Homo sapiens: one gene and its partners. The protein of the gene in region 1 interacts with the protein of each later gene in a pairwise test. Each region holds a gene or a part of one and is shown on either strand. Other genes may lie near its edges. The genes, in order: CSTF2, CDC73, TLE3 and METTL27.

The links.
Region 2: the proteins of CSTF2 (region 1) and CDC73 interact in binary tests that used the Homo sapiens proteins (3 or more experiments, as listed by UniProt).
Region 3: the proteins of CSTF2 (region 1) and TLE3 interact in binary tests that used the Homo sapiens proteins (3 or more experiments, as listed by UniProt).
Region 4: the proteins of CSTF2 (region 1) and METTL27 interact in binary tests that used the Homo sapiens proteins (3 or more experiments, as listed by UniProt).

The regions. Positions count from the first base shown.
Region 1 is NC_000023.11:100,823,369-100,830,398, forward strand, and holds part of CSTF2 (cleavage stimulation factor subunit 2), read left to right. Parts: coding exon 1-60; intron 61-517; coding exon 518-637; intron 638-751; coding exon 752-889; intron 890-3,265; coding exon 3,266-3,389; intron 3,390-4,671; coding exon 4,672-4,734; intron 4,735-7,030. UniProt on the Homo sapiens protein: One of the multiple factors required for polyadenylation and 3'-end cleavage of mammalian pre-mRNAs. This subunit is directly involved in the binding to pre-mRNAs.
Region 2 is NC_000001.11:193,125,031-193,132,060, reverse strand, and holds part of CDC73 (parafibromin), read right to left. Parts: intron 6,950-7,030; coding exon 6,844-6,949; intron 1,888-6,843; coding exon 1,818-1,887; intron 1-1,817.
Region 3 is NC_000015.10:70,052,899-70,059,928, reverse strand, and holds part of TLE3 (transducin-like enhancer protein 3), read left to right. Parts: intron 1-468; coding exon 469-519; intron 520-1,113; coding exon 1,114-1,266; intron 1,267-1,637; coding exon 1,638-1,770; coding exon of another isoform or gene 1,771-1,779; intron 1,780-2,270; coding exon 2,271-2,470; intron 2,471-3,554; coding exon 3,555-3,631; intron 3,632-4,630; coding exon 4,631-4,880; intron 4,881-5,243; coding exon 5,244-5,491; intron 5,492-6,554; coding exon 6,555-6,702; intron 6,703-7,030. UniProt on the Homo sapiens protein: Transcriptional corepressor that binds to a number of transcription factors. Inhibits the transcriptional activation mediated by CTNNB1 and TCF family members in Wnt signaling.
Region 4 is NC_000007.14:73,834,090-73,839,546, forward strand, and holds the end of METTL27 (methyltransferase-like protein 27), read right to left. Parts: intron 4,949-5,457; exon of another isoform or gene 4,771-4,948; intron 992-4,770; coding exon of another isoform or gene 914-991; coding exon 654-913; 3' UTR 501-653; downstream 1-500.

The DNA of each region.
Region 1 (7,030 bases):
AGCAAAGCAGTTGCCAGCCTTCCACCAGAGCAGATGTTTGAGCTGATGAAACAAATGAAGGTGGGAGGAGGCATTAGGTTATGAATAAAGCAAATCACATCAGGTTTTCAAGGAGTTACTTGAATTAGTTCCCTGAGCTCAAATAGAAATTGTCTGTAGACCACCATTTCTTGCACCTTCAATATTCTGTATGTACACAGTATATTTTACATTTTGTACAAAGAGCTTTCTATTTTTGTACACAAACACAGCTATCCAAACAATCCAGCTGGAGTTTTGTGGCCCATAGATGTCAGATGTAGATATTAAAATTTGGCTTTTTTCCTAAATGATAATATCACAGTATTTGAAATGCCTCTTTCTTCTCTTGCCTGCCATGACCAAGGTTTTTTTGTGCCATGCAAAAACTAATGATAAAGAGCCTCTTGAATATTACATTTCTCAGAGGGGAATGGCTCTAAATCACTATCAGTTTCTAAGTCATAAGTATTAAACCTGAATCTGCTTATCTTCTCAGCTCTGTGTCCAGAATAGTCCCCAGGAGGCACGGAACATGTTACTTCAGAACCCTCAACTGGCTTATGCTTTGCTGCAAGCACAGGTAGTGATGAGAATTGTGGATCCGGAAATTGCCCTGGTGAGTGCTTCTGGTTCTTTTATGGAAATGGTCGGGTAAACCTTGAATGGGATAGGAACTACCTGATTGCTTTGTTAAACAGACAGCTCATAGGTTTGTCTTTTCACTTTTTAGAAAATTCTGCATCGCCAGACAAATATCCCAACGCTGATTGCAGGCAACCCTCAGCCAGTCCATGGTGCTGGGCCTGGCTCAGGATCCAATGTGTCAATGAACCAGCAGAATCCTCAGGCCCCTCAGGCCCAGTCTTTGGTAGGGCTTTATCCCTTAACATTTTTTTGTATCTGTCTTAGAATGTCATTTTCTTTTTAGGAGAATATATTGAAAGAAGAATGGTCAGGAACCAGAGATGATAATTTCAATTTCCAGGCATAAAAGCAATTTCCAGGTTGCAGAGCACATGACATCTGAATGAATATAGATTCGATTCCAAGTTTGTAAAACAAAGAGATCCTTCCCGTATGCCCTTTTCTTATAAGCTAACTTTGTGTGTATGTGCATGCCTGGCACTGTGGTTGGCACTTCGTTATTCCATATGCATTATCTCATTTAATCCTCAAAGCAATTGTATGAGGTTGGCACTCTTATTATCTCCATTCTTACTGATGAAAAAAGTAAAGCTTGCTTTCAAAGCATGACACAAAACCTTAAAGCCATAAAAAATTGATACATTTGAAAACTAAAAAATTTCTATATAAAGAAAAAAATAAGTATCAAAGACATGACAAATTGAGAAAAAGTATTTACCACACATGTGATGGAAAACAGACTAATAAAGAGCCCATAGTCATTCACAAGAATGTTTATTGCCTTAGAGTGAAAAATTGGAAATGTCCTAAATGTACGTCAGTGGAAGAATGGAGAAAATGTGTGGTACATTCATCCAGTGAAATACTGTACAACAGTTAAATAAACTACACGTATCAACATGAATGACTTTGAAAAACATAATTCCATACAGCAGTTAAGATGAACTAGGATACATAATATCAACACAACTCCAAAACAGTGACATACGGACATGAAACTAAGTGAATATGGATGCATTCCCGAAATGTAGGATATATGTTTCTGCATAAATCCCCAAAATATGTGGAATGAGTTGCAAAATAATATATTGAGTATGTAATGATTCATATAAAATTTTGAAACATTAAGAAGACGTCTTAGTGGTCATCAAAGGAGAAGAGAGCACAGGATGCAATTGGGGAAGACCGTACAGGCCATTGGTTTATTTTATTTACTTATTTATTTCCTAAGCTGGGTGGCTATTTTATTTTCTATATGATTTGTATATCTGTAATTTTTCATAATAAATTTTAAAAGGCCTCCTATAAATTAGTAAGAAAATTTCCAATAACCCAGTAGAAAAATGGGAAATAGACATAAATATTTCACAAAAGGAGAAATATAAATATATAAAAATTTATTCAACTTCAAAATAAGATAATGTAATAAATTATCATTTATATATGTAATGTTATAAGATAATGTAAATAGAAACTACAATAAGCTACCATTTTTCATCTCTCAGGTTGGCAGAGGTACAGGGCAGGGACCAGCAAACATTTTTCTGTAAATGATCAGACAGTAAATATTTTTGGCTTTGCAAGTCACAGGATCTGCCACAGCTACTCTGCCATGGTAGTATGAAATCAGCCATAGGCAATAAGTGAACAAGTGTGTGTGGTTGTGTTCCGTTAAAAGTTTGTTTATAAAACCAGGCAGTGAGCCCGATTTGGCCCATGGGTCATAGTTTGCCAACCCCTGCTCTAAATAAATAAATACATTTTCAGAGATAGAAAAAAAAAGCTAAGGCCCAGAGAGGTTAGCTGGTCCAAAAATTGACACAATTATAAGTGGCAGATCTATTTCTGAACCTGGTTTTATCTGACCTCACAGCCAGTTTTCTCTTAACTACTTTCCTATACAGCTCTTCCTTTTCTTTTGTAGAGTTTTGTGTTCCTTAAACGTATATGTGATTTTTTTTATATAACTTGGCTTTTATTCTTTATTTATTGAGCTGTTTCTAATTCAAGGGACTACTCAGTTTTTTGGGGAATGCACAGATGAAAAGATGACATTCTCTTTTTCTCAACGAGTTTTAATGTAGCATTTAAAAAAATATATTTCACATTCCCCCAAAACCAGAATTATATCTAAGGACAGGAGTGAGAAAAGATTGGTTAAATTAAAAAAAAAATTTAATTTTAAAAATGTGGACTACCAGCAGTTGTTTTTTTTAAAAGAGTCCCAGTCTCCTTTTATGTTTCTTGGGTTTAGGGCTTTTTTTTTTTTTTTTTTTTACTCTTATTGGCAGCCCCAATCATGAAGTTAACAGTAGGTGTTATGTGCTGCCTTGCCACACAGATAAGACTTGTCAATCTCTACATTGAGAATATGTTCCATCTTAACCGTGTTCCATATAACCAGGCTCATGACGTATATTGCTTCTGTGGAGTTTAAAGTGTGTGACAAATCTAATGCTGCATAAGACATGCCATACAAAAAGGATGTTTAGTAGTGTATTTGGGGCTGTTCATTTGAAGAGGACTTTTAAGGTCGTAGACTTAGTATATTGAGTATCCACAGAGGCATATACATACTCTGTTTTTTTTGCTTGGTCAGGGTGGAATGCATGTCAATGGCGCACCTCCTCTGATGCAAGCTTCTATGCAGGGTGGAGTTCCAGCACCAGGGCAAATGCCAGCTGCTGTCACAGGACCTGGCCCTGGTTCCTTAGCTCCTGGAGGTAAGTTTCATTTAGTCTTCACCATTTCAGTACTTGCTAAAGTTTTGTCATAGCCACTGTTGCAGTGCAGCCAAATATGATAATGGGATCCTTAGGTAAAATTAATACACAGCTAGAAAGTATATATCTTAGGTGGAGGAAATAGTAGATTTCTTACGTTAAATCCTGTATGTCTAATTATAAGAACAGGGAAAGGGACAGTAAAGTGAAAGAGCATAGTAAAACTTCCAAGTTAACAAGGGGGAAAATGGAATGAGTGGAAACAAAATCAAGCCAGCAAAAATAGAGAAGAGGAAAAAAGTAAGAGACAGTGTAAAATAAGTAATAATAAATGTAGAGTAAGATGGAAGGAATAAAAACTAATGTAGTTGTTACTCTGCTAAATATGAATGAACTGTCAGATTAGGTTCAAAAGCTCATGAAGAAAACAGACAAAAAAATACAAGGTCACATTTGTTATAGCATATTAAACTGACATAAAATTGTATTTTAACAAACATAATCAGAACAAACAACAAAAGGGAAAAAGAGAAATTTAAAAGCTATGTACATTTATTGAAAATGTATAGATCGGCAATTAATAAGAGTATTGCTCATATACTTGTAACTGTTCCTTGTTCAACAATTGTAACTAAGAAGATTGAGTGAAATAATGATTCCCCATATGAAACATCTGTATGAACACATGATGTATTACCAATATTTAAAGTTTTTTTATGTAACAAACTTGGTTTTTGTTAATTTATCTAATCTAGGGTAGGTTGAGTACAACACTACTCATGGAGAATGATTTAATTCTAAATTGTTCTGTTCTGTAGAGAATCCAGTCTGCAGAGCTAAGTTGATGAGGAATGGAAGAAGAGATTTTTTGAAGAAATTTCTGCAAACTCAGGAATTTTTTGTATCTACTTTAGGATTGTTATGTATCTACTTTATCCTAATAGAGTTATACTTGTATTTAAATTATCTTTCATGACAGGAGGTCCATGGGTAAGTGACATTGTTTTCCTGTATTATAGAAGAGCTTCCTGCCAAGAGTTTGGTAACCAATGAAATGAATTATTCTTATTGAACTCACTATTCTGTCACTGAAACATAAAGTACAAATTGTAAATATACTAACAAACCCCATCTTCTCTCTCATTGCATTGTTGAATATCTTCCTTTGTAGGTTTCTGCTTGTGGAGCAGAATGAGGAAATTTGTAAACTCAGCCACTGTTCTAATTTTTCTTTTCCGCTGTTCTAATTGGTGTTTTTTCTTGTCTGCCCTTTATCTTCTAGGAGGAATGCAGGCTCAGGTTGGAATGCCAGGAAGTGGACCAGTGTCCATGGAACGGGGGCAAGGTAAATAAATATTAATGTCTGACTAATGTTAATTGGTCATGGAAGTGTTCCACATCCACAGTATCTAATATGGCAGCCACTAACCACCCATGGCTATTTCAATATTAAGTTAATTAAAATTAAGTAAAATTTAAAACTCAGTTCCTCAGTCACAATAGCCACATTCCAAGTGCTCAGTGGCCACAGGTGACTAGTGGATACCATACAGGACATTACAGATATAGAACATTTCTATCATCGTAAAAAGATCTATTGGACAGTGCTGGTCTAGACTTTCCACCTGGTGATTCAGAGTCCAGCTCTACAAGAATTGATAATGAAGCAAGTGGATCGTTTGTTTCCTGATTCCTAGTCTAATAATTCCACTGACATGTTCTCTCTCCCTGTATGGATATCTGTTGACTGAGTAAGGAATTTTAATAATGAGCATGTAAATATGTGGCTGGGTATGTAGAAGACTAGATTTAAACCCCAGAGAAAACTGGGAGGGAATCATAGGTCTGTAACGCCTACTTAATGAACATATGTTGTACCGTGGCTGTACTGCTATATACAACAGTAGCTGCTGCTCCAAAATCTCCATGTTGTTTCTTCATGTTACTGGAGTTTGAAGGACAAGAAAGTGCAGTGGTTCAGTTGGAAACAATGTTAGGAGGAGAGATCGTAAGAAAAGAGAAGGAACTGAGTGCATACTATATGCCAGGCACTTTAATTTTCATAAATAATCTTGTGAGTTAGGTGGCAGCACCTCAGTTTTACAGGCAAAGAGTTGGAAGCTCAGAATAAGTTACTTTCTCAAGGGGACAAGGTAAGTAAATATTAATGTATGAGTAATGTGGACTGGATTTGGTGCTCTTATTTTCTCTTCCAACTAGTAAGTGGCAGAGCTAAGATTCAGAAGTCTTTGACTCCAGAATCTGTCCTCTTTCTGTCACTCCACACTGCCTCTGTTAACTTCCAAGCATATTCTTCAGTGTCTTCTACTCTTATTCCTTGGGAATAAAATGATGGGAAAGACTGCTTTGGACAAGCATAGAGAAGCTTAAGGTTTTTTCTTTTGTAGCATATGGTTTATAAGTGGAACCCATTTAAAAAGCAAAATATTGGCCAGGCGCAGTGGCTCATGCCTGTAATCCCAGCACTTTGGGAGGCTGAGGTGGGTGGATTGCTTGAGCTCAGAGGTTTGAAACTAGCCTAGACAACATGGCAAAACCCCGTCTCTATAAAAAATACAAAAACTAGTTGGGCAATGGTGGTGTGCACTTGTGGTCCCAGCTACTTGGGAGGCCGAAGTGGAAGGATCACTTGAGCCCAACAGGTTGAGACTGCAGTGAGCCATAATCGGGCACCACTGCACTCCAGCCTGGGCAACAGAGCAAGACCCTGTCTCAAAGAATATATATATATACACACACACACACATATATATACACACATACATACATAAACATTAATATACAAGCCTGTGGTTTTTACACTGGGGTTGGTTGCTGAAGTGACAGAATTAACTTTTTCTTGTTAGAAGTCTGACAGCAGGACAAACTCCCTGGCCAAATATCTCATATTTTCTCTAAGCATCCAATGCTTTTGTGCTATTGTACATCCCTCTATCCCCACCGCACCACTGTCAATAGATCATATATGTTCCCCAGAGTATTTCTGCAGTAATGAGAAGGTATTAGGGTTTCAGTCATACTTCTGCCTGTCATGGGGCCAGCCCTCAATCCATCAGGTTTTAGCTGTTTAACGCATACTTGCACAAGACATCTTCCTATTATAGTTATCTTCACCTTTTTGTCAGAAATTGGCAAAGGGAAGTGACTCATGTTTTGAGGGTATTTCCAGGATGTCTTCATGCAGAGACTAAGTGAGATGAGCTTTCTTTTATAGTTTCCTTCAGTACCCAGCAGAGGAAGCAAGAGTCTTTTCGTGTGTGCCTAGTTTGTCTTACTTTTCCTGAAATCCATGCTGCTTTTAATGCTGAAAGGAGATGGAGATGTTTGAGAAGATACTTCTTGCTTCCCTGCCATGTTTGTTTAGTGTCGGTTCCCATGTCATCTCATTAGTCTTTGTTTGCTGTTGTCATGATGTTTATTATCAAAGACTTGCTGTGGCAGAGTATTTCTTGTGGAGTGATATTCTCTTTCATCATGTAAAGTTCATTCACTGCATTTCCCCATCTGATACATTTTTGACAGCAGAAATTTTTGTGCTTTAAAATGTGACAAAAATAGAATTGCCGTACTTCAGTTATGGCCGTTTCAGAATGAATCTTGCCTTCCAGATTCAGTGCAGT
Region 2 (7,030 bases), on another chromosome or scaffold:
TTTATTCAGTTAAGAACCTACCATGCACCACTATTGTAAATGCTGGGTATTTAACAAGACAAACAACTGTCTGTCCCCTTAGGATTTACCTTCTAATGGGAAAGACAGACACTATGTACATAAACAGATATATAATTTCAGGTCAATGTATGAGATCTGGTGAAAAATAAATCAGGATGGCACTATATAAAAACCACAGAAGGAGGAAAGGAATACTATATTTTCGATAAGAGTGGTCAGAGAAGTCTTCTCTGATGGAACAACATTTGGAAAAACACTTGAGCACAGATCTAAATGAAATAGTAAGCAAGTGAGCCATGTGATAATGTAGAGAAAGACAACTCAAGATAGAAAGAGAAAGTGCAAAGGTGCTAAGATTAGCATAGCTAAAAGACCAAAAAGACTGACTGTTATGAGCAAAGGAAGAATGGTAGAAGATGGAGTCACAGAGATTTAGGCAGAGGCAAGATGACTGCCAGGGTAACAAGTATGAGTTTTATTCTAAGAGTGATGGGAAGCCACAGGTGAGTGACACAATCAAGTTTATATACTTTTTCAAAAGCAGGACACTCTATTGCTAAGACTACACTATAGGAAATAAAGAGTGGGGACCTGTGAGGAAGCTATACAATAATCTAAAAAGCAAGGATGAAATAGGGCAGGTAGAATGGTAAGAAGTTGTCATACTTTTAAAAAGAGAAAAAAACAACTTGTTGATAGAATGGATGTGAGATGTGACAAAGATGTCACCAAAGTTCTGGCCTAAGCAACTGCAGGAAGAGCGTCTCACTACCCCTTACTAAAGTGGGAACACTGAGAAAACAACAGACTTGTTTTTGTTCTGTGTGAGGGCAGAAGGGAAAGAGGGAATCAGGCATTCCATTTTCAGTGTTAAATTTCAGATGCCTATTCAACATTCAAGGAAACATGTTGACAGTAAATTTATAAATCTGGTGCCCTGAAAGAAATCAATGCTGAAAAAAACACTTGAAATTTCATCAGCATATATATGATATCTGAGCCATAAAACTGAAAGAGATCACCTAGAGAATACAGGTTAAAAGAAAAGATAAAAAAAAAGATCAAGTCTTGGAAACTTCAAGAATTAGAGGTCAGGTACAGAAGTAACCAAAATAAACTGAGAGGTGAACAACGAGTAGAAAGAGAACCAAGAGGCTGGTGTTCCAAATGCCAAATGAAGAAAGGCTTTCAAAAATGAGTGGTCAACAGTATCAAATGCTGTTGAGAGGTCAAGTATGGTACAAGAGACCAAAGGATGTAGCAATCCTTAAATCAGTTTTGACCTTACAAGGAGTGATTTTAGTGGGATGGTAAGGATGAAGGCCAGACTAGAGTGGCTTCAAGAAAGAAACAAAGGTAAAAAAGAAGCAATGATACCACACGAACTCTTGCAGAATATTTTACAGTATCAGGGAGGAGATAAATGAAGCAGTAGACAGTAGGAATGTGGGATCAAAAACATTTTTTAAACATGAAATCTTACTGTAGGTATTCTAAAAGGGAATGATCCAGAAGAAAGTAGAAAACTGATGATGTCAGAGAAACAACAATTTACGAAGACAAAGTCTTTGAGACTGTGAAAGGAGATGGAATCCACACACAAGGAAGGGGTGACTGGCCATAAGGGCAAAGACAGTGCATCCACTGTATAAGAAAAAGGTGAGCACATGGACAAAAATGAAGGTAGGTTAATTTTTTGGTGGAAATACAAATTCTCTTCCCTCTAATCATTATTTCATAGGGGAAAAAAGAAACAATGTCTGTTTAAGACTGGGAACAATTTAAAAAGTACTCACACGCTTCACCATTGAGATATCCAAGTAGATCTTTTCGATCAGGTCTTCTAACCACAGGAATATTTTCAGTCTAAAACCAAAATTTTAAATGAGATATGAAATGAATAACAATGATACACAACTTAATAAATATTAACATGTAATGTCTGAATTTTATTCCAACATATCTTGAAAAAACGTATTTTAAATCACATTTGTAAAAAATGACTAGGCTAAAAGAACCTAATAAAAATCCTGAAAATTTATTAAACATGTTAGTTACTTTTAATAATTTTCTTACAACTTGATATTAACATGTAATGTCTGAATTTTATTCCAATATATCTTGATACAATATATTTTAAATCACATTTGAACAAAATGACTAGGCTAAAAGAACCTAATAAAAATCCTGAAAATGTATTAAACATGTTACTTTTAATAATTTTCTTGGCTGGGCGCGGTGGCTCACACCTAGAATCCCAGCACTTTGGGAGGCTGAGGTGGGTGGATCACCTGAGGTCAGGAGTTAAAGACCAGCCTGGCCAACATGGCAACACCCCGTCTCTACTAAAAAGACAAAAATTAGCTGGGTGTGGTGAAGCATGCTTGTAATCCCAGCTGCTCAGGAAGCTGAGGCAGGAGAATCACTGGAACCCAGGAGGCGGAGACAGGCGTTTCAGTGAGCCGAGACTGCACCACTGCACTCCGGCCTGGGCAACATAGAGAGATTCCGTCTCTAAATAAATAAATAAATAAATAAATAAATAAATAAATTTCTTTTTGAAATTCCAGGAAGATATACAGAAAATAATCATTAGAAATAAAGCAATGACCAGGCACAGTGGCCCACACCTGTAATCCCAGCACTGCGGGAGGCCAAGGCGGGCGCATCCCTTGAGGTCATGAGTTCAAGACCAGCCTGGCCAACATGGTCAAACTCCATCTCTACTAAAAACACAAAAATTAGGCAGGGCGCAGTGGCTCACACCTGTAATCCCAGCACTTTGGGAGGTCGAGACGGGTGGATCATGAGGTCGGGAGTTCAAGACCAGCCTGAGCAAGATGGTAAAACCCCATCTCTACTAAAACTACAAAAATTAGCTAGGCGCGGTGACAGGCACCTGCAGTCCCTGCTACTCGGGAGGCTGAGGCAAGAGAATCGCTTGAACCTGGGCGGCAGAGGTTGCAGTAAGCCGAGATCACGCCACTGTACTCCAGCCTGGGTGACAGAGTGAGACACTGTCTCAAAAAAAAAAAAAAAAAAAAAATTAGCCGGGCGTGATGGCAGAAGCCTATAATCCCAGCTACTCAGGAGACTGAGGCGAGACCCAGTCTGAAACACAAACAAACAGTGCAAGAAAAATTGGTAGCTAACAGATTTCAGTTTAAATCCTTTGTCACTTTATATGTGTAACAATGAAGTAACAACAAGAACCTTTAGTATCTTTGGCCAATGACCTTATATTGAATACTTATTATAATTTACTGCACCAAACATTCTGCACTGACTCCTCAATGATTTAGATAAACTGTATTTAATCACTTAAAAATTAACCTTTTATTTTAAAAAGGTCAAGCTAAATTTTAGTTTCTCCTTATGAGTTTAAAAATTTGAGTGCAGAGTTTTTTTGTGCTTGTATTCTTTTAAACCAGCCTAGGCCAGGCATGGTGGTTCATGCCTGTAATCCTAACACTCTGGGAGGCCAAAGTGGGTGGATTGCTGGAGCCCAGGAGTTCGAGACCAGCCTGAGCAACATGGAAAAACTCCAACTCTACAAAAATATAAAAGTTAGCCAGGCATGGTGGCAAGCGCCTGCAGTCCCAGCTATACTCCCAGCTACTCAGGAGGCTGAAGGAGGAAGACAACTTGAGCCCGGGAGGGTAAGGCTGTGGCAAGCCAAGATCCTGCCACTGCACTCCAGCCTGGGTGACAGAGCAAGACTCTGTCTCAAAAAAAAATAAAAAATAAAAATAAACCAGTCTATATGGAATATCATAAACAGTTAAAAGATTTGAGTTAATTTTAAGTTACTGTTTCTAAGTCTAATAACTTACATCATCATTTGGTCACTACTGAGTTATGTACACATCACAATCCACTGAAAAAGATTACATCTACTCACACTAAAATAGGAACTAAGGATCAGGAATCTGTTTTCAGAGTGGTCTGCTCAGCCGGACGCAGTGGCTCACGCCTGTAATCCCAACACTTTGGGAGGTCGAGGCGGGCGGATCGCGAGGTCAGGAAATCAAGACCAACCTGGCTAACGTGGTGAACCCCCGTCTCTACTAAAAATACAAAAATTAGCCAGGCATGGTGGCGTGTGCCTGTAATTCTAGCTACTTGGGAGGCTGAGGCAGGAGAATCCCTTGAACCCAGGAGGCGGAGGTTGCAGTGAGCCGAGATCACGCCACTGCACTCAAAAAAAAAAAAAAAAAAAATGAGTGGTCTGCGCACAGGAAAGAGCAAATAACACAAAGTAATTAGGAGACAACAATCTCGAATTCATAGAATTTTGGAATTTTAGAATCCTACTCTTTCAATCTGGCAAATACTTATGAAAAATGAGTTAAATCTTATGCAACCAAGGGTCCCAAGGTCCACAGTAACAATTACAGCTATCAGTTATATGCACAACCATTTCCCAAAAACAGAATCTATAAATCTAAGCCAACTATCTGAATCTTTGTTACACTAAAATGAATATATCCAACAAAACACTGTAAGAACTACCTAATTTAGTTTTTAAAGATCTGAGTTAAAATAACCTTAAAGACGGAGCTGGTGCTATTTTTTTCCCCTTATTTTCCCAAGTAGTCCCACTCTAATTTTATTTTTTTAAATATGTAACATAAATATATATTTCTTACTCAGGAAAGCAGAAGCCTTATGGTTTAATACAAAGCCCACTAAGTGACGGGATACTTTCTCAATTGCTATAATCACACACACACACACACACACACACACATTTTTTTTTTTTCCCTGAGACAGAGTCTTTGCTCTATCACCCAGGATAGATGCATTGGTGTGATCATGGCTTACTGCAGCCTCAACCTCCTGGGCCCAAGTGATCCTCCCACCTCAGCCCCTTGAGTAGCCAGCTGGGAGTATAGGTGCACACTACCACGCCTGACTAATTTTTTTTATTTTTTGTTTTAACAAAGTTTCCCTATGTTGCCCAGGTTGGTCTTGAACTCCTGAGCTCAAGTGATCCTCCCACTTGAGCTCAGCCTCCCAAAGTGCTGGGACTACAGGCATGCACCACCACACCTGGCTTTTAGTTGCTTTAGACAACAAGTTATTGTTTGAAAGATACATAAGCCAGAAACCTTAACTATTTCTAGTTGGGAGGGAGGTTAGAGTTATAGAAGTTAAGTTTCACACAGCTTAATGTGATCCAGCAACGGTGTTAGGTAACTCAAAAAGCAGCTCCAGTGATGACAGACACAGTGATATTTTAAAAAATTGTTTTAAGAACTATAAGAAAAGTTTAAGAAGATTGTTTTAAGAACTATAAGAAATGGGAAAAAGTAGTTATTTATAAATACATTTCATACTTAATTTTAAGTGTATACTTGTAAGCAAAAGCAACAAATATTAAAAGCAGACATTTAATTATTTCAATTATATCTTCAAAAAATTTTATGTTCAACTCTACCAAAAATAATCTGAGGGAAAAGCTCATTTAAAAAAATTAAATATCTTTTAGGCCATTTTATGTGGGCATTATAGTACTTTTCCATGTCATACAGCTATCCTATCCAAATAACTCTGAATCTTATTTACTTATCAATTATAATATACTGCTATAATTTAGGTCTTAATGATACTTCCCTACAGATGAAGAATCTCATCATCATAGTTTATGAAATTAGTTCTTTTCAAGTTGTTTCCAAATATTTCCTCTGAGTAATAAATTTTCAAACACTGAGAAAGCAAGCAAAACTAAAAACAAATGAACTTCTCCAGAGTACTAAAACAGCTGCACAAAACTGATTAAGAAACAATTTTTTTAAATGTCTGCTAATCTTAATCCTTACAACCAAAAAAAGTTTTCTTGAGATTAAACTAGAGTTCTGAAGTAACAGGGTCCTTCCACAGGCTTACAAGTTTTTCTAAACATCTCTATAAATACTTTTAGCGTTTCGGGTTTTCTTTTTCTTGAGATGGCATCTCACTATGTTGCCCAGGCTGGTCTTGATCTCCTAGGCTCAAGCAACCCTACCGCCTTAGAGTCCCAAGTAGCTGGGATTACCAGCGTGCACTAAGAAGCCTGGCTCTATAAATCCCTTTAAAACTTCCTTTGTTATAAACATTACCCACACTTTACATGAAAAAATATCACAGATTAAAAAGTCTGTGTAAGTCACACAGTCACCTAATTTTGACTCTCCTGGAGACACTCATACAAACCTTTCATTCTTTTGATTTGAAACCCATGAGGGAAGCTATCCATTCCAAATGATACCTACTACCACGAAGCCAAAAAAAAAAAAAATGTGTTAATACAAAAATTAGCCCGGCATGGTGGGCCATGCCTATAGTCCCAGTTTCTCAGGAGACTGAGGTGGGAGGCTGGCTTGAGCCCGAGAAGTAGAGGGTACAGTAAGCCGAGATCACACCACTGCACTCCAGCTTAGGCAACAGAGCCAGATCCTATCTCAAAAAAAAAAAAAAAGTTTTAAAATGAATTATTGGCCAGGCACAGTGATTCATGCCAGTAATCCCAGCACTTCGGGAGGCCGAGGCAGGAGGATCCACTGAGGGTAGGAGTTCAAGACCAGCCTAGGCAACACAGCAAGACCCCCTCATCTTTAACAACAACAAAAAAAATTAGCCAGATACGGTGGCACAGGCCTGCAGTCCTGGCTACTTGAAGGCAGAGGTGGGAAGATCACTTGAGCCTAGGAGTTCGAGGCTGCAATGAGCTATGATCACACCACTGCACCCTAGCCCGGGCAACAAGGCCAGACCCTGTCTCTTAAATAAATAAAAATAAAACTGATAAATAGATAGATAAGTAAAATGAATTCTACTTACAGCTGCACGTCGGACATAAACAGGATGAGAAAGGTGCACGTTATTAAGTAGAAATAAAATGGAATCCAATGTGTAGTACTCTCTGGGTTGGCCTTCCTTTCCAGTCCTGAAATAATTAAGGCAAGATTTTTTTTACTGACAATTCTAATTCAACTCTTCAGGCTGGATTCATTTATATAAACAACTT
Region 3 (7,030 bases), on another chromosome or scaffold:
CACATTGAGCACCCAAAGGACACTCAGCTGTGTTTCTGTGAGAGGAGGCAAGTTACTATCCCACACAGATGGGTGGGAATGACCAGGTGAGAGCAGCACACTGACTGTGAAGGATGGTGGATGTAAAACCAGCTGGGAAGAAGGTTCTGGCTTCAGAGAGAAGCAGAAGGGCAGGCTGTGGGGGCAGGGGCTTAGAACTGCTATGATGGAGCGGGTGTCAGTGCGGCTGCCCAGTGGGTACAGGAGTGGAGTAACCCGGGGCCTGGGCTAGGGGACAGCCTCACGGGGAGACCGTGTTGAGCTGGAGTGGAGCCTGTTGAAGGGCAGGGCTGGAGTAGAAAGCATGGACTTTGGGGTTTGGCCTGGCTTCAGGTCCTGGCCAGTAGAAGGACAGGGTGGTTTGGGCTCAGTCAGGGGTGGGGAAAGTGTGGCCTCTTACTGACCAGTTGGCTTCTCTCTTGGTTGCAGGACAGTGATGGAGACAAGAGTGATGATCTGGTGGTGGATGTTTCCAATGAGGTATGGGCAGGCCCGGTCGCAAGGGGGCTCTTGGTTTGGCATGGTTTGGAATTATTCCTCCCCAGGGTGGGATCTATTCTGTCTGTTCTAGTATTACTGGCAGCCTGAGCAGGGAGACAAGGCCTCCAGTCTTGGGGTCTCAGGGGGTCAAGAGGAGCAGGGCAGGGCTTTGCTGCATGGTGTCTGGGCATTTATGGGCCTGGAGGGCCTCCTGCAATGGGTCTCCAGAGAGACACCCCCAAAGATCCCAGGTAGGGGCCATCTTCTATTCCCCGTGATCCTCCGTCCCCCCAGGGTCTCAGCCTCAGGGGCCTGAGGAGGAGCTGGAGAGCATCTACATTTGGCCAAACCCAGCCATGCTGATTGAAGTCCTGAACTTGTGTTTGACATTGGGAAGACCATCCTTCCACCCTCCCTAGGCCTCAGTCAGACCAGATGGTTAAGAGCTAGTTTTTCCTCACTGTGGGGCCCCCAGTCTTTCAGCCAAGCTCGTCTTCCCATCGCCCATGCCCTCTCTCTTCCCACTCCCAGAGCAGGGAAGCCTCGAGGCTGGCTGTTGCTTTCAGTGCATCTCTGCATCACTTGTGTTTTCAGGACCCCGCAACGCCCCGGGTCAGCCCGGCACACTCCCCTCCTGAAAATGGGCTGGACAAGGCCCGTAGCCTGAAAAAAGATGCCCCCACCAGCCCTGCCTCGGTGGCCTCTTCCAGTAGCACACCTTCCTCCAAGACCAAAGACCTTGGTCATGTATGTGGGGTCTGGGTGGAAGGGAGTGGGAAGGGAGCGGCAGGGACTGGAGCTGGGGTGGTGCCGATTGGCAGGCAGAGGGGTGGAGTGGGAGAAGCTGGGTGGGTGATTGGCCCCGGTTTACCTTCTGTGCCTGCTGGGCCTGTGCTAATGAGTTAACGTTTCTGAGCCTCGGTTGCTACGTCTGTAAAATGGGAGTGATCACCCCAGTCCCTGCCAAACAAGGTTGGGCAAGGATTGAGAGGCTGTTCGGCAGAAGCTTCATAAGGGTCTGGCTCTGGGCTTCACGTTGGGACCGGCACCAGTTGTGCCCGGCTCCTAGGAGAATGGAAGCCTCATGGCCTCCCTTGTTCTGCATCTCCCCTCTTCAGAACGACAAATCCTCCACCCCTGGGCTCAAGTCCAACACACCAACCCCAAGGAACGACGCCCCAACTCCAGGCACCAGCACGACCCCAGGGCTCAGGTCGATGCCGGGTAAACCTCCGGGCATGGACCCGATAGGTATAATGGGTAGGCACCATGGGCTGGGTTAATCTGATTGGGGGGAGGGGGTCTGCTCTTGGCCAGGGCAGGGGTGACACACACGCATGGGATAGAGCACAGGCAGTGTCTCCCAGGGCCTGCCCCTGGGGACTTCACGGTCAGATTTGAGGAGGTGACACCAGGGTTTCTGGGACCCCTGCTGGGCCAGACATGAAAGCAGCATCAGACGGGTCAGGGCTCCCAAAATCTGTTCCCACCCCTGTCATTAGTCCAGTGAGGCTCTAAGCAAGCCCATTTGGGCCTCCATATCCTGCTCTGTAAAAAGAGGTGGGTGCATCTGCCAAGCTCTAAGCTTCTTTGGCTCTGAAGGCAGGGATCCCACTTGGGTGGGTTCAGTCTGAGAGGACTGCCTGGAGCAGGCAGCTTAAGAATGCAGGGAGGGTTATTGCTGGGTGAGGCGGCCATGGCCATGTCCCAATCCACCTAAGGCCCACCTCCCTGACGCCCACCCCTCGCAGCCTCGGCTCTGCGCACGCCCATCTCCATCACCAGCTCCTATGCGGCGCCCTTCGCCATGATGAGCCACCATGAGATGAACGGCTCCCTCACCAGTCCTGGCGCCTACGCCGGCCTCCACAACATCCCACCCCAGATGAGCGCCGCCGCCGCTGCTGCAGCCGCTGCCTATGGCCGATCGCCAATGGTGAGCTTTGGAGCTGTACGTAGACCTTTTGGCTCCTTTCTTGGGGACTGGGCGTGGTGTGGGGAGCCAGTGGTTGGACGGGTGCTCCCCACATGCTAAAGGGGCCCCTCAGGGTCTCAAGGCCAGGCAGCTGCCCCTGTGGGAAGGTGTATCGGAAACAATTGAGACTTGGCTGGAAGGGTACACTCTTTGGGGCCAGCAGACCTGAGTTCCATCCCCCACTGGCCTGTGAGCCGCCCTGTGACCTCATGCAAGGCAGCCTCCCTTTTAGTCTGCAAAACGGGGCTGACACCTGGCTTTCCCAGCTCTGGGGGGTAGGAATCCCAGGGCAAGTCAGGTGATGTCCATGGAGCAGGGGTCTCGTAGATGGGACTGGTTGTACAAGACTTTCTATTGTGGTGAATAAATAATAAGAGTTAGGGGTCGAGCGCAGTGGCTCACGCCTGTAATCCCAGCACTTTGGGAGGCCAAGGCGGGTGGATCACCTGGGGTCAGGAAATCGAGACCAGCCTGGCCAGCCAACGTGGTGAAACCTCATCTCTACTAAAAATACAAAAATTAGCCGGGCGTGGTGGCAGGCGCTATTCGGGAGGTGAAGGCAGGAGACTCACTTGAACCTGGGAGGCAGAGGTTGCAGTGAGCCAAGATTGCACCACCGCGCTCCAGCTTGGGCGGCAGAGCGAGACTCCATCTCAAAAAAATAAAAATAAAAAGAAGAGTTAGGGTTGGCGGGGAGAGGGGCCCTTTTTCAGGAGACAGTTTTCCTTTTTACCTCCTGGACCTGGGGTGGCCTCCTCTCCACTGGCAGGCCCACTAGGACCACAGGAGAGGAAAGAAGTAGGGCAGGGCCAGCTCTGCCTTGCAGAACAGGGAGGATGCTGGTTCACAGTGGGGTCTGCACTGTCACCCCTTCCCTGCCACGGGCTGTCCTGGGCCTGTGTCTCCTCTGAATCAATGGGCTCTGCTCTGCTCAGCTTGTCTCTTGGGTTACAAAGTGGCAGAGCCGTGCAGGTAGGACCCCGGGTGGGTGGTGGAGGAGGCAGGGGTGGGGGTGTGTGGCAGCACGGCTGATGGAGGGCTGTCTTGCCTTGCTTTACAGGTTGGTTTTGACCCTCACCCCCCGATGCGGGCCACAGGCCTCCCCTCAAGCCTGGCCTCCATTCCTGGAGGAAAACCGTAAGCTTTGGCTATACTTACTGCATGCTTTGTAGGGTGGGCAGGAGAGAGCACTCTACCCCCAATTCCAACAACGCCCCTCATCCCCTGACCAAGGGTTTGCCCTGGTGCACCTCCCTTTGGAAAGGTATCTGTCCCTCTAGAGGCACCGAGGGCTGGTTGCAACCCCAGGAAACTGTAGCCAAGCCACACTTCTGAGCACCCACAGAAGCTCCCTCCGACAGAGGAGCCATGGAGTTAGCTAAGTACATGGCCACTGGGCTGGGAGAGAAGGAACACTCCTCACCGAGTCACCTGGAGCTGTGGTGGGCCTTGCCGACTCCTTTGGGTTCGACCTGCTGGGAAGGCCCCAGTGCCGCTGGTCGCAGGCCCTTCCCTGTCAGCAGTGCTTCCCTCCCCTGGAGGGCACACTCTCCCCGGCCCTTCACTTCCTTGGGTTGCTAGGAAACTAAAAGATTGAGCCTACAGATAATGCCGAGACACTGCCTGACACAGTCCTCTAATTGTCAACGAGAATCTAGATGCTGATTGAGAGGGCACCCACCAGAGCCTGAAACAGCAGGCAGGCCAGGCTGGCTCACCACAGGCTCTGACATGGACTTTCCCATTTGCTATTGCAGGGGCAAGCAGATCCCTTCCCTAATACCACCGGCTCCTAAAGCAAGAGGTGGCATTTCAGCCAGGCCCTTTCCAGGGTTGGCATGTTGGGGGAATGTATGGATCGTGGGAAAGGGCATTCCAGGACACCTGTGGGTTTCTGGTCTGATTTGAAGCAAGGATATATAACTGGGTGTAAAAATCAAAGCTGGTCTGTTAATCATGTCTACCTCGATGGAGCCATCCCAGTACATGGGGTTACTGGGTTCGAATGGTTTCAGAGCAGAGGGGGCTAGAGGCAGGGCAGCCAGTCGGGGGCAGTGCAGATGACCTGGGCCAGGCCTATGGGAACTCTGAGGGGCCGGGGTGGATGGCAGCAGTGACGGTTTCTCACCTTTTCAGAGCGTACTCATTCCATGTGAGTGCTGATGGGCAGATGCAGCCCGTGCCCTTCCCCCACGACGCCCTGGCAGGCCCCGGCATCCCGAGGCACGCCCGGCAGATCAACACACTCAGCCACGGGGAGGTGGTGTGTGCCGTGACCATCAGCAACCCCACGAGGCACGTCTACACAGGTGGCAAGGGCTGCGTGAAGATCTGGGACATCAGCCAGCCAGGCAGCAAGAGCCCCATCTCCCAGCTGGACTGCCTGGTGAGAATCCCAGGGCTGCTGCGCCGCCTCCAGCTGGTGTAGGAGGATGGGGCAGCCTGGGCCACAGGGGAGAGCCCCAGGGCCTGGCTCAGCATCGTATTGGCTGAGCAACTTTAGGCAAGCTGACTAACCTCTCTGAGCCTCAGTTGTGCCTTCTGTGTGTGGGGCTGATTCTGACCTCCTGGTATTCATGAAAGATCAAAGGGTTGTGAATTTGAGGAATGGGGACAGCCTGGCAGCTGCTGGGTATAGGGGGAGGCTGTAAGCAGGACTGGTGAGGGTGCTCGGTGTTGCTGGACAGGACTCTCCTGGTGCCCAGGAGGGGAAGTAGGCAGCACTCAGCCCTGCCCCTTCTCCCTCCAGAACAGGGACAATTACATCCGCTCCTGCAAGCTGCTCCCTGATGGGCGCACGCTCATCGTGGGCGGCGAGGCCAGCACGCTCACCATCTGGGACCTGGCCTCGCCCACGCCCCGCATCAAGGCCGAGCTGACGTCCTCGGCTCCCGCCTGTTATGCCCTGGCCATTAGCCCTGACGCCAAAGTCTGCTTCTCCTGCTGCAGCGATGGGAACATTGCTGTCTGGGACCTGCACAACCAGACCCTGGTCAGGTGAGCCGGCAGGAGGGAGCATTAGTGCCTCGTCCTGGGGAAGTTTTTACCCATCCTGCCTGGTCTTGTTTGCTGTGACCTTGGCCCTGTCTGAGGCACTGTGGGGTGGCCAGAACCGTTGGGATGAGGGATGCACAGGTGAAAAGACAGCTCCGCCTGCCTTATGCGAGGGACAGAGGAGGGAGGGCCATTGGGCCCAGGAGTTGGAGAGGGCTCTGGGAAGAAAGTGGAGCTGGAGCATGTCTGGGGAAGTGGAGGTCAGATTAGTGGAGCAAGCAGAGAGTCTGGGAGCAGAGCCCCAGAGACCAGATTAGGGAGACCCGACTGGGAAGCCACATCACGTGGTAGCTAAACAAGCCTCAGGACAAAACTGCTGGCTTTGAATCCTGCCTCCACTATGACCTAGTGCAAGTCGCTGAACCCCTGCGGCTCAGTTTCTTCCTGTGTAAAACAGTGACAGTGGAGCATCTTCCTCTGACTGTGCCGCAGCGCAAAGGCAGACGGGTGCCTGGCCCAGCTGACTCTTGTATACATGGGCTGTGTGTGTTATTCAGCGTGTTCATGGATGGCCTCAGCCCCATAGTTCATGCAGGATGAAGAGATAGATTAAGAGGGCAAATTGAGGGCGTGTGGAGTGCGAGTTAAGGAGCTGTGTCCTAAAGGCAGTGGGGCCCTGCATTCTCTTTATCAGTCATCTCACACGTAGCTTCCCCAGGGCCTTCCTGCCTTCCTCACCTTCCTGAGCCTCCAGCTCCACCTCCTCCAGAGGCCCACCCTGGAGGGACTCAGTCTCAGAAGGCTAGTGCAAGGTCCCTTTTTCACCTCCCCCCCCCATTTCCCAGGGGACTTGTCCCTGGGCAAACCCTTCCGTGGAACTGGAAAGAGGCCTGGAACTGGAAAGAGGCCGGGGCTAGCTTTGCTGCAAGCTCGCTAAGGGACCATGCGCATAGTGCACTCTTCTGGGCCTCAGTTTTCTCTTCTGCTCAGACTGCCCCTGGGATGGCCGCCACCTGGCAGTCTGTGGTTCCCGGGACTCACCCTCCTCCCTGCTTGGCTTTCGTAGGCAGTTCCAGGGCCACACAGATGGGGCCAGCTGCATAGACATCTCCCATGATGGCACCAAACTGTGGACAGGGGGCCTGGACAACACGGTGCGCTCCTGGGACCTGCGGGAGGGCCGACAGCTACAGCAGCATGACTTCACTTCCCAGGTGTGCGGCCCAAGACTCCTCCCTTCCCAAAGAGCAGTGTGTTCCCTCCCTCCGGGGCCCCAGTGGCTGGGTCAGGGACAAAGGGACCCTCACAGAGTGGCCACGGCCAAGAGACTTGGGACCAACCTGAGCCATCTGGGAAGGCTTCCTGGAGGAAGCAGCAGTGAAACAGATGGAGATGACCTTGGGGTTGGACACATTTGGCCCAACTGTGGAAATTCGATTCATTCTCTGCTGCTATTGAGCACTTTGTCCTCGGCGTCCTCATTCACAAGATGGAAATAATAGTAGCACCCTCCTAGGTCTGATGTGGGCACCTGAAATGATC
Region 4 (5,457 bases), on another chromosome or scaffold:
CTCAAGTGATTCTCCTGTCTCAGCCTCCCAAATAGCTGGCATGCACCCACGGCACCTGGCTGATTTTTCCAATTTTTTTTTTTTTTGAGACAGAGTCTCGCTCTGTCACCCAGTGGCACCATCTCAGCTCACTGCAACCTCCGCCTCCTGGGCTCATGCAATTCTCCTGCCTCAGCCTCGCAACTAGCTGGGATTACAGGGGTGTGCTACCATGCCCAGCTAATTTTTGTATTTTTAGTAGAGACAGGGTTTCGCCATGTTGGCCAGGCTGGTCTCGAACTCCAGACCTCAAGTGATCCTCCCGCCTCGGCCTCCCAAAGTGTTAATTTTTACAATTTTTCTTTAAGATAGGGGTCTCACTATGTTGCCCAGGCTGGTTTTGAACTCGTGGTCTCAAGAGATCCTCCTGCCTTGGCCTTCCAAATTGTTGGGATTACAGGTGTGAGCCACCACACCCTGCTACGTCTCGATTCTGGAACCCACAGGAACAGATGCCACTGTTTTCTGGGAGCTCATTTAATAGGCAGGGCATTTCTGAGGGGCAGGGTTGGTTCGGAGGTCCCATTTTACAGGGGAGGCAGAGGAGGCCCAGCAGATGGGCCCAGCTAAGGCCACATGGAGTCAGGGGCCAGCTGGGGGCTGGGGGCTGGATCTCACTTCCTCAACCTGGGTCGCCTTCCACTTTCGGTACAGGTAGACAATGCCGGAGATGAAGCCATCCTTGGCAGAGATGCCGGATACCACCTCCAGCTCGGAGGTAGCCAGCTCCCAGCGGTCCACAGGCGGTCCACAGGCCAGGCCACCAGGCCTTCCCACATCCCAGCCTGCTCCAGCCTGTCCAGGGTGGCCTCCAGAGCCTCCTTGTATTGAAGGTTGGACGAGTTGGTCCTGGTGGTCAGACACACCAGCCCACCTGGGGGAGAGGGGTAGGTGAGGTGGGGGAGGGGCAGGAGCCACAGTCCTGGGCCATCTCTGCTGGGGATGGTTGTCCCTTCAAGGCAAGAAATTCGACTTAAAAGATTGGGGACGCTCTCTCCCTCTCCCTCTCCCTCTCCCTCTCCCTCCTCTCCCTCCTCTCCCTCCTCTCCCTCCTCTCCCTCCTCTCCCTCTCCCTCTCCCTCTCCCTCTCCCTCTCCCCACGGTCTCCCTCTCCCTCTCTTTCCACGGTCTCCCTCTCATGCTGAGCCGAAGCTGGACTGTACTGCTGCCATCTCGGCTCACTGCAACCTCCCTGCCTGACTCTCCTGACTCAGCCTGCCGAGTGCCTGTGATTGCAGACTCGCGCCGCCACGCCTGACTGGTTTTGGTGGAGACGGGGTTTCGCTGTGTTGGCCAGGCCGGTCTCCAGCCCCTAACCGCACGTGATCCACCAGCCTCGGCCTCCTGAGGTGCCGGGATTGCAGATGGAGTCTCGTTCACTCAGTGCTCAATGGTGCCCAGGCTGGAGTGCAGTAGCGTGATCTCGGCTCGCTACAACCTCCACCTCCCAGCCGCCTGCCTTGGCCTCCCAAAGTGCCGAGATTGCAGCCTCTGCCCGGCCGCCACCCCGTCTGGGAAGTGAGGAGCATCTCTGCCTGGCCGCCCATCATCTGGGATGTGAGGAGCCCCTCTGCCTGGCTGCCCAGTCTGGAAAGTGAGGAGCGTCTCCGCCCGGCCGCCATCCGACCTAGGAAGTGAGGAGCACCTCTGCCCGGCCGCCATCACATCTAGGAAGTGAGGAGCGTCTCTGCCCGGCCGCCCATTGTCTGAGATGTGGGGAGCGCCTCTGCCCCGCCGCCCCGTCTGGGATGTGAGGAGCACCTCTGCCCGGCCGCAACCCCGTCTGGGAGGTGAGGAGCATCTCTGCCCGGCCGCCCCGTCTGAGAAGTGAGGAGCCCCTCCGCCTGGCAGCCGCCCCGTCTGGGAAGTGAGGAGCCCCTCCGCCCGGCAGCCGCCCCGTCTGGGAAGTGAGGAGCGTCTCCGCCCGGCAGCCACCCCATCCGGGAGGGAGGTGGGGGGGTCAGCCCCCCGCCCCACCAGCCGCCCCATCCGGGAGGGAGGTGGGGGGGTCAGCCCCCTGCCCGGCCAGCCGCCCATCCGGGAGGGAGGTAGGGGGGTCAGCCCCCCGCCAGGCCAGCCGCCCCGTCCGGGAGGGAGGTGGGGGCATCAGCCCCCCGCCCGGCCAGCCGCCCCGTCCAGGAGGGAGGTGGGGGGGTCAGCCCCCCGCCCGGCCAGCTGCCCCGTCCAGTAGGTGAGGGGCGCCTCTGCCCGGCCGCCCCTACTGGGAAGTGAGGAGCCCCTCTGCCCGGCCAGCCGCCCAGTCCGGGAGGGAGGTGGGGGGGTCAGCCCCCCGCCCGGCCAGCCGCCCCGTCCGGGAGGTGAGGGGCGCCTCTGCCCGGCCACCCCTACTGGGAAGTGAGGAGCCCCTCTGCCCGGCCAGCCGCCCCATCCGGGAGGGAGGTGGGGGGGTCAGCCCCCTGCCCGGCCAGCCCCCCCATCCGGGAAGTGAGGGGCGCCTCTGCCCGGCCGCCCCTACTGGGAGGTGGGGAGCCCCTCTGCCTGGCCAGCCGCCCCGTCCGGGAGGGAGGTGGGGGGGGTCAGCCCCCCGCCCGGCCAGCCCCCCCATCCGGGAAGTGAGGGGCGCCTCTGCCCGGCCGCCCCTACTGGGAACTGAGGAGCCCCTCTGCCCGGCCACCACCCCGTCTGGGAGGTGTGCCCAACAGCTCATTGAGAACGAGCCAGGATGACAATGGCGGCTTTGTGGAATAGAAAGGCAGGAAAGGTGGGGAAAAGATTGAGAAATCGGATGGTTGCCGTGTCTGTGTAGAAAGAAGTAGACATGGGAGACTTTTCATTTTGTTCTGTACTAAGAAAAATTCTTCTGCCTTGGGATCCTGTTGATCTATGACCTTACCCCCAACCCTGTGCTCTCTGAAACATGTGCTGTGTCCACTCAGGGTTGAATGGATTAAGGGCAGTGCAAGATGTGCTTTGTTAAACAGATGCTTGAAGGCAGCATGCTCGTTAAGAGTCATCACCACTCCCTAATCTCAAGTACCCAGGGACACAAACACTGCGGAAGGCCGCAGGGTCCTCTGCCTAGGAAAACCAGAGACCTTTGTTCACTTGTTTAGCTGCTGACCTTCCCTCCACTATTGTCCTATGACCCTGCCAAATCCCCCTCTGTGAGAAACACCCAAGAATTATCAATAAAAAATAAATAAATAAATAAATAAATTTAAAAAAAATAAAAAAAAATAAAAAGTCAATCAATTAAAAATAAATAAATAAATAAATAAATAAATAAATAAATAAAAGATTGGGGACAAATAAACACTGTAACCTAATCCCATACATGTTACTGTGGAAACAAAAAGTGAAAATAAAACCTAATTAATGTTCCAATAAAAAAAAAAAAAAAAAAGAAAAAGAAATTCTTCCAGCTTCCTTCCCAGGGCAGTCTTTCTGTGTCTTTTACATTGGGAATTCCTTTTTCTTTCTTTCTTTTTTTTTGAGACCCTGTCTTGCTCTGTCACCCAGGCTGGAGTGCAATGGCATGCTCTTGGCTCACTTCAGCCTCCGCCTCCTGGGTTCAAGTGATTCTCCTGTCTCAGCCTCCCTTGCAGCTGGGATTACAGGCACGTGCCACCACGCCCGGCTATTTTGTATTTTTTGTAGAGATGGGGTTTTGCCATGTTGGCCAGGCTGGTCTCGAACTTTTGACCTCAGGTGATCTGCCCGCTGGGGATTATAAGCGTGAGCCACTGTGCCTGCCCACCCCCCCTTTTTTTTCTTTCTTGAGATAGGATCTCACCCTATTTCCTAGGCTGGAGTGCAGCAGAGCAATCATAGCTGACTGTAGCCTCCAACTCACGAGCTCAAGCAATCCTCCCACCTCAGCCTCCTGAGTAGCTGGGACCACAGGTGCTCACCACCACGCCTGGCTAATTAAACATTTTTTTTTTGTAGAGATGGGGTCTTGCTATGTTGTCCAGGCTGCTCTTGAACTCCTGGGCTCAAGGGATCCTCCTGCCTCGGTTTCCCAAAGTGCTGGGATTATGGGGGTGAGCTACTGTGCCTGGTGGGGAATTCTTGACGTAATTCTCCTGGATTGAGGAGACACCCTCCTCACCACTCACCACTCACCCACGCCTCTGCTGGAGGATGTGACTGTGTCTGAATGGACAGGAAGAAAGTTCCCATGTGGGCTTTGGATCTTGGGCTATCCCTTCACCTCTCTGGGCCTCAGTTTCCCAGCTGGCACAGAGAGGATGATTATCTAACATCACAGGAAGGCTGGTATGTGTGTTTGAAGTGCCCTACAGTAAGTGCCGGCTGAATGGCCTTGTCACCTCAGGTCCAGGCACCTATAGTGTGCGTGCCCAGGGTGGCCCCAAGTGCACTGAGAAGGAGAGATGGGGAAGCCCAAGTGACTGGTCTGGGAAGGTTTCCTGGAGGAGGGGGTAAGGAGAAGCAGGGTGTTGCTGATAGAAGGGAGCGCAGTGAGAGGAGAGGCTCCGGAGCAGGGGAGACTGTCACCCATGGGCAGCCTGATGGGGCTGAAGGGCTTAGCAAGCACAGGTTGGGCTAGGAAGTCCGATCCTGGCTGCTTCACCCAGTAGAAAGTTCCTGTCTTCTTGGGCCCAACTTCGACCTTTCCAGCTGACCCCATCCGTGTCCCTGCATTTGTCAGCCTTCAGGGCTCCCCAGATGCCTGCCCAGACCTGCCCAGGCTTAGCCACAGCCTCTGCTGGGCCTGGCAGAGACGGGAGGGAGAGGAAGCATTTTTACCTCTATGATTTCCTGTCCTGCAGCCAGCCAGCGCCTCCTCGTTCTCATGCTCAGCCCCTCTCCTTTCTGCCTTAGGGTGCACCCCATGTGGATTCCTCACCTGGTCTTGGAAATGCCTCTCTTCTCTACATTCATGGAGCAGGACCAGGCACAGTGGCTCATGCCTATAATCCCAGCACTGTGAGAGGCCAAGGCGGGCGATCACTTGAGGTCAGGAGTTCAAGACCAGCCTGGCCAACATGATGAAACCCCATCTCTATTAAAAATACAAAAATTAGCTGGGTGTGGTGGTGGGCTCCTGTAATCCCAGCTACTTGGGAGCCTGAGGCAGGAGAATCTCTTGAACCTGGGAGGTGAAGGTTGCAGTGAACTGAGATTGTGCCACTGTACTCCAGCCTTGGTGACAGAGCAAGACTCTGTCTCAAATTAAATAAATAAATAAATTCTGGGAGCAGTGAGCACTCACGGCTCTCGTGGGGCCACCTCTGACCAGGCCCTGTGCTCTCTGGCCCCTTCCTGGGCCCCAGTGGGTTGGAGATCAAGGCCCAGAGGGCAGGGTCTGAGCCCTCTGCCCAGAGCAGAACAAAGCGCTGAGCAAGAACACAGCAGGAGACGGGAAACACACCTGCCCGGGCAGCGCAATGTGCAAAGTTTACAAACGGTGCTCACAGCTCTCATCTCCCCTGA